2 separate regions of the Homo sapiens genome follow, and region 2 is linked to region 1. The links come from fine-mapping of genetic effects on gene expression. A gene starts in region 1. The other region holds a variant in brackets. All regions are shown on one strand. Distances are from middle to middle.

Region 1 (2,907 bases):
CCCGAGTTCAAGCAATTCTCCTGCCTCAGCCTCCTGAGTAGCTGGGATTACAGGCGCACCCCATGCCCGGCTAATTTTTGTATTTTTAGTAGAGATGGGGTTTCACCATGTTGGCCAGGCTGGTCTCAAACTCCCGACCTCAGGTGATCTGCCCACCTCGGCCTCCCAAAGTGCTGGGATTACAGGCGTGAGCCACCTTGTCTGTTCAGAGACTTCTGACTTCCGTATTTCCCTCGCTAATGGCCTCACCTCCCGTTTGAGTATGTGCAGCATGTGCAAATTGCAGAGGAACTGGGGAACTTCCCTGCCAGGCAATCCTGGGTCCTCTTGGCTCTCCACTTCCTCCTTCCTTCCTTCCTTCCTCCTTCCTTCCTTCCTTCCTTCCTTTCTTTCTTCCTTGGTCTGGCTCTGTCGCCCAGGGGCTGGAGTGCAGTGGCGGTATCTCGGTACAAACTAAGCTATTTGAAATGCCTCGGAATTCCCAAAGAAAGCTCAGTAAATACCAGACAGATGAAACGGTCCTGCCCGCTCTCCCTCTTTCAGTACCCAGTTTTCTCTTTCCTCTCCTTTCATAACGTTTCTTCCCATCATCCCTCTACCTCCTTATTTCTGTCAGGGCTGTTAGATACCCTTCCGGTCTGTTATCTCCTCCTCCAGCCTTGTGCTACAGGACAACTCAAAAGCCCCCTATGGCTCCCAAGTGATCACTAAATAAAACTCGTGATCTCACTTCAGCCTACCCCTGCAGGATTGCTGCGGCAAAATGGACTACTCCCAGAGGCGTGATCACGGTTCGGTTCACTGCAGCCCAGACTTCCCGGGCTCAAGCGATCCCGAACCTCCCACCTCAGCCTCTCGAGTAGCTGGGACTCCAGACGTGCACCACTACGCCAGGCTCATTTTGTTTATTTTTTATAGAGACAGGCTAGTCTCCAACTTGTGGGCTCAGAGCGATCCTCCCGCCTCGACTTCCGAAAGTGTTAGGATTACAGGCGTGAGCCACTGCGTCCGGCTCAATGGACTCCTTCTTAAATGTGAGTTCTCCGCACACACTGGGCCTTGCTCACCTCCACGATTTAACCTCGCAGTTAAGTCCCTTTTCAAGGTTTTTATTCGTCCTTCAGCGAAGCGCTGTCAACGCCTCCCTGCGTCTTTCCCTTCTTGAGCACCAGAGGGCGCTCCTCCGACCCGAGGAGGAAGCGACTCGGGCCAACCTGTCCAGGTTGTCCCACCCCTTTTTCCTTCCGGGCCAATCGTTAGTCAGAGTGGGCGGAGCCGCCCGCGGGCACCTGCGCGTTAAGAGTGGGCCGCGTCGCTGAGGGGTAGCGATGCGGGCTCCGGGGATGAGGTCGCGGCCGGCGGGTCCCGCGCTGTTGCTGCTGCTGCTCTTCCTCGGAGCGGCCGAGTCGGTGCGTCGGGCCCAGCCTCCGCGCCGCTACACCCCAGACTGGCCGAGCCTGGATTCTCGGCCGCTGCCGGCCTGGTTCGACGAAGCCAAGTTCGGGGTGTTCATCCACTGGGGCGTGTTCTCGGTGCCCGCCTGGGGCAGCGAGTGGTTCTGGTGGCACTGGCAGGGCGAGGGGCGGCCGCAGTACCAGCGCTTCATGCGCGACAACTACCCGCCCGGCTTCAGCTACGCCGACTTCGGACCGCAGTTCACTGCGCGCTTCTTCCACCCGGAGGAGTGGGCCGACCTCTTCCAGGCCGCGGGCGCCAAGTGAGTGTGGTCCCGGGGAGCGGCGCCCCTTCCCGGCTCGGGCGGCAAACAGGAGGTGGGGCTGGGCGGCCAGCTGGGGCGCGCAGCTGCCGGTCGCCCCCATGACCCCGGGGCCCGCGTGTGGCCTCCTGCGGCCACAGGAGTGAGCCTGGCACACCTGATGAGGAGGAGGAGGTGCGTTTGACTGGGGACTGATAAATGAAGGTTCAGGGAGATGGCAGGCTGGGAAGCCCTGGGTATCTGCACCTGTGCACCGAGAGGGCTGAGTTAGGCCATACCTGATGTCCCTTTCAGATTGACAGCACTATCAGGACTCCAGGGTTTCAAATCAGTGGTGTGGAGCCTGGTTCTAATTCAACTGTGAACCTGGACATGTCACTTCAGCCTCCCTGCAGCCTCTTCTATGGTTGTAGAAAGGGGTTATATAAGGATACAACCCTTTGAGCCCTAATGTCTCTAAGAGGGAAAGAGAGGGGAGTTCTGGTGTGCAGTGTATTTGGGCAACAGTACAGATAGTCATTCGTTTGCTCCTCTCAATCCCTTTTACGTAGGAAGTGTCCAGGAAGGGTCTGACTCTCTCTGAGAACTGTTGGAACTTGGGGGTGGCTGGTTCAGAGAACAGAGTAGAGAGCGCTGGGGTGGGGATAAGGGGAGACCACGACCCATGAAGTTGTCAAGGCAGGGGCTTGTCCTGAAGGAGTGAGCCTTGAGAGCCCTGTATTGACAGATGTTAAGTCAGGGAGTGGTTACTATCAGCTTCTAGAAAGATTCATTCGGCTGCTGGGAGAGAAGTGGGTTGGAGAAGAGTAAAAATGGAGGCGGGGAGGTTTCCCCAGCCCCTGGCTTAGAGCAGTCTTCCATCCTTACCTTGGTTCCTCAGCCATCTTCCGGGTTTTCGTTTCTCTTGAACTTTGAATTCACTTGTACTAAAGAGAAGTTACAACTGGCATTTAGTGTTTGCCATTAAATGTATGGGAGTATAAGACTTGATTAAGCAGAGGAAGTGTTTGTCTCCTAGGGGCCTTAGGGATCCATAACTTACAAGTGAGAAAAATTAAAATCTGGGAGATAACCTCTTTCCATGCCTTTTATTTCATGGATGAGATGACTGGCCCAAAGAGAGGAAGGAATATAATGTCCTAGACTCCAGGTCTCATGACGTCAAGGTTGTTTCCACTGCACCAGGGTCT
Region 2 (2,907 bases), 29 kb after region 1:
AGATCATCTATATCAATTTTTGAGGAAAAAATTCACTTTGTGTCCCAACTGAAGAGAACTGGCGATTAACAGCCCAAACAACAGCCAACATCATAGACATCTAATTGGTTCGGCTTACACAATTCTGACTGAAAAAGTTCAGCAAACTTTCCACTGAATGGGTGCTAAAAGTATTGCACCCAGATAGGCCAGGTGCGGTGGCCCATGCCTGTAATCCCAGCACTTTGGGAGGCCAAGGTGGATGGATCACAAGGTCAGGGATTCGAGACCAGTCTGGCCATTATGGTGAAACCCTGTCTCTACTAAAAATACAAAAATTAGCCTAGTGGTGCGTGCCTGTAGTCCCAGCTACTCAGGAGGCTGAGGCAGAAGAATTGCTTGAACTCAGGAGGTGGAAGTTGCAGTGAGCCAAGATCGAGCCACTGCACTCTAGCCTGGGCAGCAAGAGCGAAACATCGTCTCAAAAAAAAATAATAATAATAAAATAATTTTTTAAACTCACCACCTCAGCTTTATAAAGCAGAACTTTTATTTATTTATTTATTTATTTATTTATTTATTTATTTTTATTTTTTTTGAGGTGGAGTCTTGCTCTTGTCGCCTAGGCTGGAGTGCGGTGGTACAATCTCGGCTCACTGCAACTCTGCTTCCCAGGTTCAAGAAATTCTGCCTCAGCCTGAGTGGCTGCGCCACCATAAGCGACTAATTTTTGTATTTTTAGTAGAGACGGGGTTTCACCATGTTGGTCAGTCTGGTCTCGAACTCCTGACCTACTGATCTGCCCGCCTTGGCCTCCCAATCACTTGAACCTGGGAGGAGGAGGTTTCAGTGAGCCGAGATTGTGCCACTGCACTCCAGCCTGGGCAACAGAGTGAGACTCTGTCTCAAAAACAAACAAACAGAAAGGCCAGGGAAAGCTTCACCAAAGAGTACTTCCCCACTTCAGGACAACGCTCCTGACTTCTTATTGTTTTGTAATCTTAAAAAAATCTTTAAAGGGGCCGGGCGCAGTGGCTCAAGCCTGTAATCCCAGCACTTTGGGAGGTCGAGGCGGGCGGATCACGAGGTCAGGAGATCGAGACCATCCTGGCGAACACAGTGAAACCCCGTCTCTACTAAAAATACAAAAATTAGCCCGGTGTGGTGGCAGGCACCTGTAATCTCAGCTACTCAGGAGGCTGAGGCACGAGAATTGCTTGAACCCGGGAAGCAGAGGTTGCAGTGAGCCGAGATTGCGCCACTGCACTCAAGCCTGGGCGACAAAGCGAGACTCCAAAAAAAAAAAAAAAAAAAAAAAGCTGGAGGCCGGTAGATCACGAGGTCAGGAGATCGAGACCATCCTGACTAACACGGTGAAACCCCGTCTCTACTAAAAATACAAAAAATTAGCTGGGCGTGATGGCGGGCGCCTGTAGTCCCAGCTACTCGGGAGGCTGAGGCAGGAGAATGGCGTGAACCCGGAAGGCGGAGCTTGCAGTGAACCGAGATTGTGCCACTGCACTCCAGCCTGGACGACAGAGA[G/C]AGACTCCGTCTCAAAAAAAAAAAAAAAAAAAAAAAATCTTTAAAAGGCACCCATTTTTCTTCAGTTAATAATGCAAAAAAGACTGCATTGACGTGGTTTAATTCCCAGGACCCTCTGCCCTTTAAAGGTAAACTAAATGCATATCATAGCTTTACAAAAATGTCTTGCCCTTGATAGAGCTTATACTGAGAAATGAGGTTTATATTTTTTATTTTAATATTTTGATTCCATTTTCCAATAAGTTTTTAAAGTCCCCTCATATACCTAGAGGCGAAATTACTGGGTCATATGGTAACTGTATGTTTAACCCCTTTTGTTGTGTGTGATAAAATATATGTAACATAAAACTTGTCACTTTAAACATTTTTAAGTGTACAATTCAGTGGCATTATTTTCACAATGTTGTGCAACTGAAACGGGTAAAGTTCCTTTTCCCCCTCTCAGGGCGTGCGAGGGGGGTGTGGCGTGCGACGGGGGTGTGGCGTGCGAGGGGGGTGTGGCGTGCGACGGGGGTGTGGCGTGCGAGGGGAGTGTGGCGTGCGAGGGCGGTGTGGCTCGCTTCTTCAGTGCCAGGCTGCTCAAACCTCTAGGGGGGCATACAGACAGGCAGAGGCTGTGGGCCTCCAACCCCACGGCAGCATGTAGGGGTGGATGCTTACAGCTCCTGGAGCCCCAGTGGGCGTGTGTTACAGGGTGCTCTTTTAGTTTTGCTGTCTATAGGCGACTTGTGTTAGTTAACCAGCTCGAGTGGGCTCTCAACCTTGTCATAGGACAGAGAGGGCTTTCTATATGCCGGGTTCTTGCCTTGGTGTACCAGAAGAATTGGATCACACCTGGGCTTAGAGAATGGGTGCAAGGTTTTATTGAGTAGAGGTAGCTCTTAGCAGATGTTGGAAGCCAGAAGAGAATGGAGTAGGAAGGTTTTCCCCTGGAGTGGGGCCACTCAGCAGCCCGGGACCCCCTTCCACAGTCCCAGCCAAACTCTGCGTCGTTCTGCTGGTCAGCGGCCTGCTGGCGTGCCAGTGCCTGCTGATGTGCTCCTCTGGACGTCCAGCCGCCTGTGTGTTCCTCCACTGATGTGCTCCTCTCCATGTCCGGCTACCTGTGTGTCTGCCTGCTAAGGTCTTGGGGGTTTTTATAGGCACAGGATGGGGGCGGGGCAGGCCGGGTGGTCTTGGGAAACGCAACATTGGGACAGGAAAACAAAAATGCCTGTCCTCACCTAGGTCTGTGGGGGTGGAGCTGCAGTCAAGGACCACGTTCTCACGTCCTCCTCTACCCAGCACTTCCTTCCCACCTTTCCATGTCATTTATAGGGACCATGCTCTTCTTCCCTTCCCAGCACTTCCTTCCCACCTTTCCATATCATTTATAGGGACCATGCT

What was found. PIP is the estimated chance that this variant, and not a neighbour inherited with it, causes the effect. A credible set is the group of variants that fine-mapping cannot tell apart.
Region 2: its variant is the best candidate, but not a certain one, in a credible set for the expression of FUCA1 in whole blood (INTERVAL, PIP 0.70).

What each region holds. Positions count from the first base shown.
Region 1 is chr1:23,866,708-23,869,614 of GRCh38, reverse strand. FUCA1 (alpha-L-fucosidase 1) reads left to right here and starts at 1,325. Exons shown (of 8, transcript NM_000147.5): 1 at 1,325-1,717. The coding sequence starts at 1,329. RefSeq lists a silencer at 1,694-1,913.
Region 2 is chr1:23,837,801-23,840,707 of GRCh38, reverse strand. It overlaps LOC105376861 (a long non-coding RNA gene), which reads left to right and starts at 2,072. Exons shown (of 3, transcript XR_947068.2): 1 at 2,072-2,644. The variant G/C (reference allele first, on the strand shown) is at 1,522.